Linked DNA regions of Homo sapiens: region 2 is reported to be linked to region 1. The links are microRNA targets in miRTarBase. Many come from high-throughput screens and were not tested one by one. Region 1 holds a microRNA gene; the other region holds the end of a gene's coding sequence.
The links. The annotated mature microRNA hsa-miR-570-3p reads CGAAAACAGCAAUUACCUUUGC and lies in region 1 at 3,028-3,049, shown strand. An mRNA with a match to its seed (bases 2 to 7 or 8) in the 3' UTR can be bound and repressed. Matches are read on the target gene's strand: a 7mer-m8 pairs with bases 2 to 8, a 7mer-A1 pairs with bases 2 to 7 and ends in A, and an 8mer does both.

Region 1 (4,431 bases):
TTAACTCAAGATGCATTAAAGATTTAAACGTGAGACCTAAAACCAGAAAAATCCTAGAAGAAAACCTAGGCAACACCATTGAGGACGTAAGCATGGGCAAAGACTTCATGACTAAAACACCAAAAGAAATGGCAACAAAAGCCAAAATTGACAAAAGGTATCTAATGAAACTAGAGAGCTTCTGCACAGCATGACTGTATTTCAGTGCACGTTTACCACCGAGCTCTTAACGCTCCACCACTGTCCTGTGTCATTAGGATCCCAGCTCTGCAGCCATTCCTCTAGTTGGGCCTGGGTCGGCTCTGGGATGCCGCGGGGGGGCCGGTCGGCGGCGGAGGGGCCAGTGGGGACCCGGGGCAGGGGCGGAGACCCCTCCCACTGCACATCCCACTGCCTGGGTATCTGGCCCCCAACCGGCCTGCCCGCTGCTCCCACCTCCCATGGTGGGTCGGGGGCTGAGGGCTGGGGACTGGGGCAGGGTACCCCAAATATCTCTCGGTGGCGATCGCTCAGTCCGTGCAGTCCATCCAGCTCCTGCATTGTCCGTCCTACCAATAACCTCTCACTTGCAATTCTCAGCCCCTTCCTGCATTGTCTCCCTGTGAGACCTACTAGAACCCCCGCCTTTCACACTGCTGACCTGCTGGGGGAAAATGCACAGAGGCAGAGACGAGGCCACGCGGGAGTCCTGATCTCTAACCCCAGCCGGTCTCAGGCCTTGCCGAGGCAACGCTGCTTCCCCAGACACTCTCCCTTTCCCATTCTTTTTTTTTTTTTTTTTTGAGTTGGAGTCTCGCTTTGCCACCCAGTCTGGAGTGCAGCGGCGCGATCTCAGCTCACTGCACCCTCCACCTCCTGGGTTCAAGCGATTCTCCTGCCTCAGCCTCCCAAGTAGCTGGGATTACAGGCACACACCACCATGCCTGGCTAATTTTTGTATTTTTAGTAGAGATGGGGTTACACCATGTTGGCCAGGCTGGTCTCAAATGCCCGACTTCAGGTGATCCACCCGCCTCGAGCTCCCAAAGTGCTGGGATTACAGGCGTGAGCCATCGCGCCTGCCTTTACTTTCCCATTCTTAACGCCTCCCGTTTCAGACCTGTCCCCTTTTCCCCGCATTTCTGACTGTCACGGCACATCACAACCAGCAGACAGGGCTTCCCCTATTTCACAGGAGAAATAGAAGCCATCAGATGGGACCTCCTTCAAAGTCCTGCCACCAAACCTCAGCATGTACCTGGACCCACATGTATCCTCTTTTCCTTTGGGATTGAATTAGAGAGGTGCCGCTCGAAACCCGCTCCTGGGTGGGAGTCTTGGCTCTATCAGTTATGCCTCTATTCTGTATGTTTAACCTCGCCCTCGTAGGGGCATAAAACAGCATTTAAACAGGATCAAGCTTTCCATTTTAAAACTCCATACACTCCCTTAATTTCATCTCCTCCTCCACCTACTGCCCCATGTCTCTCCCTCTTCCTGGCTAAACGTCTCAAAAAAGTGGATACACTTTCTGTCAACTCCTAAACACTCCTCACGCTCATTTGGCCTCTGCTCCTCCCTTCCTCCTCCCACTTCATTGGAACTACTTCTGCCAAAGAGGATCCCTGAGTCAGCCTGACTGGTAACCCCAATGGACTCTACTCAATATGCAACATCCTTCACTTCTTAGCAGAGTTTGAAACAGCCTGACTCTCCTCTTCTGGCAACATTCTTTTCCTTGGTTTGGGGACGCTGTACTGTTCTGGTTTTGCCCCTCCCTCCGAGCATTCCTTGTGTTTGTCCTGGCCCATTTTCTCCTCTCATTCTACATCCTCTCCCCGGGGATTTTAGCTTCTCTCACGGCTCAGGTTACCATCTCCATAGTGATGACTATCAAATTCTGTACCTCATTTCCAGAGGCTCCTGACAGACTTGCTTGGTCAATATACTACTGGACATATTCATGAGACTGTCTCACACAGGCATCTCGAACCCAGTGTGTCCCACAATTCTCTTCCTATCCATGCCTGTTCCTCTTCCACTGCCTCATATGTCGGTGACTGTCCACCTTCTCTCTCTCTCCCCCTCTCCGTTTGGCTCATAGGAAAAGTGTCACCAAGGGCTGTAAGTGCAGATTTCTAATTATCCCCTAAATTTGAACATTTTTCCTCTCGAAAGTGTATGGCCATTACCCTATTACAGATCAACATCTTCAATCACTGGAATGATGGCAATAATCTAATTGGGTTCATTTTATCCTCTATCTAACAATGACAACTCATTGCCTACACAGCAGGTAGAAGGAGTTTGTTTTCAGAATTGCCCTCTGACCTATTTAAGACGCTCAGATATTCCCTGAGGCTCCTTGGCCTGGCCACAAAGGCCCTACACATTCTGGCTGCTTCCTCCTTTCCAGCATCCTCTCTCACGTCTCCTCTCCTCAGTTCCACCCTCAGGAGGCACCAGAATTCCTCACTTCTTTGACTACAAGGCACCGTCTTACTCCCAAGACCAGTGAATCCGAAGGTGGACCACCAGCTGAGGGACTAGATTCCAGACTGAATAGAACAACTTTCCCTGTCTCTCCACATAAAGTGTGTTTGTTTTTCCTCTTACAGGTTTCCTTAATGACAACAAAAAAGGGAGTAATCCTACCCACTGTAAGAGTCATGACTCTTGATTGCAGCTGACAGAAACTCATGACAGCCTGCTTTAGATGAAGGGGGAGAGAAGGACTGGAAGAATCTTGGAGTTGGGAATGTCACACGTAATTGAAGGAAGAACAAGAAAACTATAGTAAAGAACCCTGGGGTGGTGATGTAGTCATGGGCCAAGTGTCCTGGAACCCTGGGGTGGTGATGTAGTTGTGGGCCAAGTGTCCTGGAACCCTGGGGTGGTGATGTAGTCATGGGCCAAGTGTCCTGGAACCCTGGGGTGGTGATGTAGTTGTGGGCCAAGTGTCCTGGGTTTTGGGTGGAGAAAGAGTCCCCTAGATAAGTTATTAGGTGGGTGCAAAGGTAATTGCAGTTTTTCCCATTATTTTAATTGCGAAAACAGCAATTACCTTTGCACCAACCTGATGGAGTCCCCCTTGCCATGCTTCTCTCTGTGAAAAACCCCAAGCCGAAGTCAGCATAACATCCACAGGACTCTATGTTTGCAAAAGCCAGCTTAGCTATATTACATGTATAAGCACATTTTTTCAATAAGTCAGCCTTAGCTTACTGTAACTTTTTAACTTTATAAACTTAGTATTTTAACTTTTTAAACTTTTTTGTTGAAAACTAAGACACAAAAACACATGTTAGCCTAGATCCACACAGGGTCAGGGTCATCAGTATCACTGTCTTCCACCTCCACATTTTGTCTCTCTGGAAGGTCTTCAGGGGCAATAACACACATGGAGCTGTCATCGCCTGTGGTAACAATGCCTTCTACAGTACTTCCCAAAGGGCCTGCTAGTTCACTTAATTCTTTTATAGAGAGAAGGAGTACACTCTAAAACACTGATCAATAGTATATTATAGTAAATACATAAACCAGGAACACATTTATTATCATTATCACGTATTGTGTATTGTACAGAATGGTGTGTGCTGTGCTATCCAGGAACACATTTATTATCATTATCAAGTATTGTGTACTGTACAGAATGGTGTGCGCTGTGCTTTTATGCAAGTGGCAGCACAGTAGCTTTACACGAGCATCACTAGACACATGAGTAGCATTGCACTCGGCAACAGGAATTTTTTCAGGCCCATTATTATAATCTTATGGGACCGCATCCTATATGCAGTTTGTCATTGACCAAAATGTCCTTATGCGATGCATGACTATATTTGCAAAGGACTAGTATCTAGAATACATTTAAAAGTCTTAAAATAGTAACAAAACAAAGAATGCAATTAGAACATGAGCAAAAGATACAAAGCAACATTTCACTGGAGAAGATATACAGATTGCAAATAAGCACATGAAAAGATGTTTGATACCATTAGGGAAACGCTTCTTTAAACCAGGAGATATCACCACGTGTTAGAATCAACAAAATAAGGCCAGGCATGGTGGCTCACACCTGTAATCCCAACACTTTGGGAGGCTGGGGCAGGCAGATCACATGAGATCAGGAATTCAAGACCAACCTGGCCAACATGGCAAAACCCTGTCTCTGCTGAAAACACAAAAATTAGCCAGGTGTGGTGGCACACGCCTGTAGTCCTAGCACCTTGGGAGGCTGAGGCAAGATAATTGCTTAAACCCAGGAGACGGAGGTTGCAGTAAGCTGAGATCATGCCACTGCGCTCCAGCCTGGGCGACAGAGCAAGATTATGTCTCAAAAAAAAAAAAAAAAAAAAGAATCACCAAAATAAAAAATAGTAACAATACTATTGTCAAGGATGCAAAGGAACTGTACCACTCAATCACTGCTGTGAGAATTTAAAGTGGTGCAGC
Region 2 (4,215 bases), not on the chromosome of region 1:
AATAAATAAATAATAAATAAAAATACAAAAAATTACTTGGGCATGGTGGCAGGCACCTGTAATCCCAGCTACTCGGGAGGCTGAGGCAGGAGAACTGCTTGAACCCGGGAGGTGGAGGTTGCACTGAGCCAAGACCACACAATTGCACTCCAGGTTGGGCGACAAAGCAAGACTCTGTCTAAAAAAAAAAAAAGAAAAAAGCAATTTACTGAGCACTCGCTCTGCTAGGTACTTGGGTTTGAACCCAGGGATTCAACAGGGAATGTGCCTATTGAGCTTAGTAAATTTGGGAAATCAAACTGAATTAAATGTCATCTAGTTTCTCAGTGCCTCTTTGAGATAGACATTCTAGGGATGTACAAAAAAATGACATCTGAACTTAGGATGTAACAAATAACTATTTAATGTGAACATGCTACATACTTGAATTTATCCAGTACATTTACCTACATATCAAATTATCAAACGTCCAAAGGATTACAATCTATTTTTCTTCCCTAATGCCTTTCTTCCACATGAGCACTAAATGTCATGGTAAAGTGCTAATGATTCTCAAAATGCAAAACTTGGAAAAAAATTGTATAACTTTTTTTTTAGGAAAAGCACATAAGATAAACTTGAACAAAGTAATGAAATTATCTCCAGATTTTCTTTTTCAAGGCTGAGTGTGTGATTCACACCTGTAATCCCAGCACTTTGGGAGGCTGAGGTGGGAGGATTGCCTGAGGCCAGGAGTTCAAGACCAGCCTGGGCAACACAGGGCGAACCCCCGCCCCACCGACCTCTATGAATAATAAAAAATTAGCTGAGCATGGTGGTACATGCTTATAGTCCCAGCTACTCAGCAGCCAAGGTGAGAGGCTAACTTGAGCCCAGGAGGTAGAGGCTGCAGTAAGCCATGATTGTGCCACTGCACTCCAGCCTGGGGGACACGACAACACCCTGTCTCAAAAATAATAAACAAAATGTTAAAATTAAATTTAAAAACAGGACTGGGCAGGGTGACTTATGCCTGTAATCCCACCACCTTGGGAGGCTGAGGCAGGAGGATCACTTAAGCTCAGGAATTTAAGACCAGCCTAGGCAACATAGTGAGACTACATCTCTACTAAAAAATTTTTTTAAAAATTAGCTGGGTGTGATGCTGGACGACCGTTGTAGCCCCAGTTACTTAGGAGGCTGAGGTATTCGGGAGAATCACTTGAGCTCTGAGGTTGAGGCTGCAGTGAGCCATGACTGTGCCATTGCACTCTAGCCTAGGTGACAGAGGGAGACCCTGTCTCAATAAAAACGTAAGAAAAAAGAAAAGAAATCAGGACTTGGAATCCTAATTTGAAAATGAAACAGAACACAGAGTAAGCTACCTAAAACAGTAATAGGCTTACAGAAGGCTTTTTAGGAATTCTTGTGTGTTCTACTCATACTTGTATAAAATTTTAAGCATCTCCAAATGTTATACAGCTCTAAATAAAGTGGAGAAAAGGGGTAGCCAGGTAATTCAAATAATAGAATTTCTTTCTTCCCAAATTACTTACTGAAGCCATGAAGCAAAACTTACCTACACAAAAATCCAGAGATCTGTGATTAGTAAACATTTAAACCGTTGACAAATTCTTTCCTTGATATTCAACGGCATCCTTCCAAGAATGTGGTTAACCAATGAACTCAATCAAGTTCAGTTGTGTCTATGACTGTGATGTCTAAATAACTGAAAAGTAAAATATCCAAAATAGCTGCTTTTCTTATGCATTACACATACCCCAACATTATGCACACAGGTGCACCAACTTAGTCCATTTGTGCTACTGCAACAAAATACCTATAATTTATAAAGAACAGAAATTTGTATTTCTCACAGTCTGTTGGCTGGGAAGCCCAAGATCAAGGTGCTCGCAGGTTCCACATCAGGCGGAGGCCCCTTCCTCACAGATGACACCATCTAGGTGTCCTCCTGTGGCAGAACAACAGAACAGCAAAATGGGCCTAAGCTAGTTGCTTCCAGACCTTTTTATAAAAGGCAACTAATTCATTCATGAAGACAGAGCGCTCATGCCTTAAATCACTTCCCCAAAAGCCCAACCTCTTAATACCACCATAATGGGGACGAACACATGAATTTGGGGTGGTGGGACACATATATTCAAACTATAGCATGCACTTTTCAACATCTTAAAACAGATTCCCGTGGTCTCAAGAGGCCAGACTAGACAAAAATTAGGGCATCTCTTTGGTTACTCTCTAAAACGTTAAACTCTATACTGAGAGTGAGTGGAATACAAAAGTATGACATTTAATTAGACATTCTGCTGGCTGACACAAAACTTGCACTTCCTTTTTCATTAGCCAATAGGTACAGCTATAACTGTAGACAGAAATTATAATTAGAAATAATGAGAGCAATTTCTTGGATTACTCCACTTTTAAATTATATTTTATTCAGACTTATCCTTTGAAATTACTCATGATTAGCCTATCCTCTTCATGTGATAATTTAGGAAACCTCTCTATTGCTGTGGCATCTTTATGGAAAAAAAAAATTGTGTACATGCATACATGCAAGAAAGTTTCCTACAAACATCACAATTTAAAAACCACTCTATCCAAAAAGGCATTGTAAAAGTATAATTTTGCATTTTATTCATTCATTCCATCAGCTGGGAATTGCTCTATTGTACAAATACAGTTTTGTACAAAAAAATCACAAAATGTTACAAAATAAAAAAAGTACAAACTGCATTACTTAATAAATATGACTAAAAGTAGTTAAAGTGGCAATGAGATTGATTTTAAGTTGGAAACATTGTTTGACCCAGCAAACCATACAAGCTCTGTTTACAGACATTTCTACATCAATACAGGGCAATCCTATTTTGCCTTTTGAAAGAATGTAAAGAAATATTAAGACAGTGTTCTCCTGCTATAACTGCCAAGGTTGGCTCCAGACATTTATGCCATTAGTTTATAAATCTCTTAGCTGGATTCAAGAAGTTATATAAAGCAGGAGGCTTATCTTGTCACAGAGTTTTATACCATGTTAACATTCTCTTACAACAACGTGACAAATGTAAATAAAAACAACTGAGAGCACCAGACAATCTACTCTACACATCAACCAGGGTACAGAATAATCATTCTGCCATCAGCAAATATCAGACTTTCATTCAAGTAAGACCTGCTACTATCCCTTAAAAGAGGAAAAACAAAACAAAAACCAAAAAAAAAACACAAAAAAACACCTTCCCACAACCTTCCATTAAGTAATTTTCTTTAAAAGATTCGCCATTTCTAGAAAAATAATGACTTCCAAAACAACAGCTCTGTTTCATCAAAATGGAATGGGCCAAACATCTGGTAACAAGAATGCATCAATATCCATTTGAAATAATTATCTAAGAATTGTGAAATTCAAATTTCAACAACATAAAATAACTACCAAATCACAAACTCTGTTCAAAATAATACATTTCATATAAAGCACTTCTCTGGATTTACGCCTGAAAGCTGTTTGTCAAAATGGAACACGTCATAGATGAAGGTACACCAGTTTTTAAAAATGTTGTGCAAAAATACATTTTTATAGAAAATAGACTACCAGGAATGAACAAATTTACACTGTGAGAAATCAGCTTGCAAATTAAGTAATGCTCACTTTATACAGCAAATTATAAATAGCAGTAAAATCACCCAAAGCTATCATGAAACATCATTTAGGTGCCCAGCAACCTCCAGCTCTGAGAAAACATTCAAAAAGATGATTAAGGCATTACACCTACAGTAAAATCTACTAGCAAGTTTGAAAGTGCTATTACCCTGATTAAAGTTCATGTGATTCTCCAAACACAAGTTATATATGCAATTATTCCCAGGGTGTAAGGTTTTGAGACATTTCAAGAGCATGCATTTTGTTCAATATACATTTTAGACAAGGATATGGCCATAGATTTGGCAAGTTCTTCGTCGCGTTTCCTTTGCACTTGAGTTTGTTTGCACCAGTTGTCGTACTCTGGGTTAGGATAGGAGTGATCAAATACAGCATCATAGTGTCCGTTACTGAGCCAACTGAGCCAAATACTAGGCCTCAGGGAATCCTCTGGGCCCAAATAATGAATCATGGTAGACACCGTGGGACTCTCCAGCCTCCCTCCAGTAGTTAAATGGATATTCACATTCAGCATCTGCCCCATGGCCAGCAACTCCGGGTACCCGGCCCATGCC

Region 2: miRTarBase lists OTUD1 as a target of hsa-miR-570-3p. Seed matches in the 3' UTR shown: 7mer-m8 at 3,736-3,742.

Annotation. Positions count from the first base shown.
Region 1 is chr3:195,696,433-195,700,863 of GRCh38, forward strand. It overlaps MIR570 (microRNA 570), which reads left to right and starts at 2,969; the gene lies at 2,969-3,065. All of the region lies in intron 2 of MIR570HG (MIR570 host gene), which reads left to right. LOC124909477 (a long non-coding RNA gene) reads left to right here and starts at 113. Exons shown (of 2, transcript XR_007096227.1): 1 at 113-157; 2 at 2,598-2,638.
Region 2 is chr10:23,440,576-23,444,790 of GRCh38, reverse strand. OTUD1 (OTU deubiquitinase 1) reads right to left here. Exons shown (of 1, transcript NM_001145373.3): 1 at 2,414-4,215. The coding sequence ends at 3,888. Among named protein-coding and RNA genes, the nearest start is that of OTUD1, 3.6 kb to the right of the region's middle.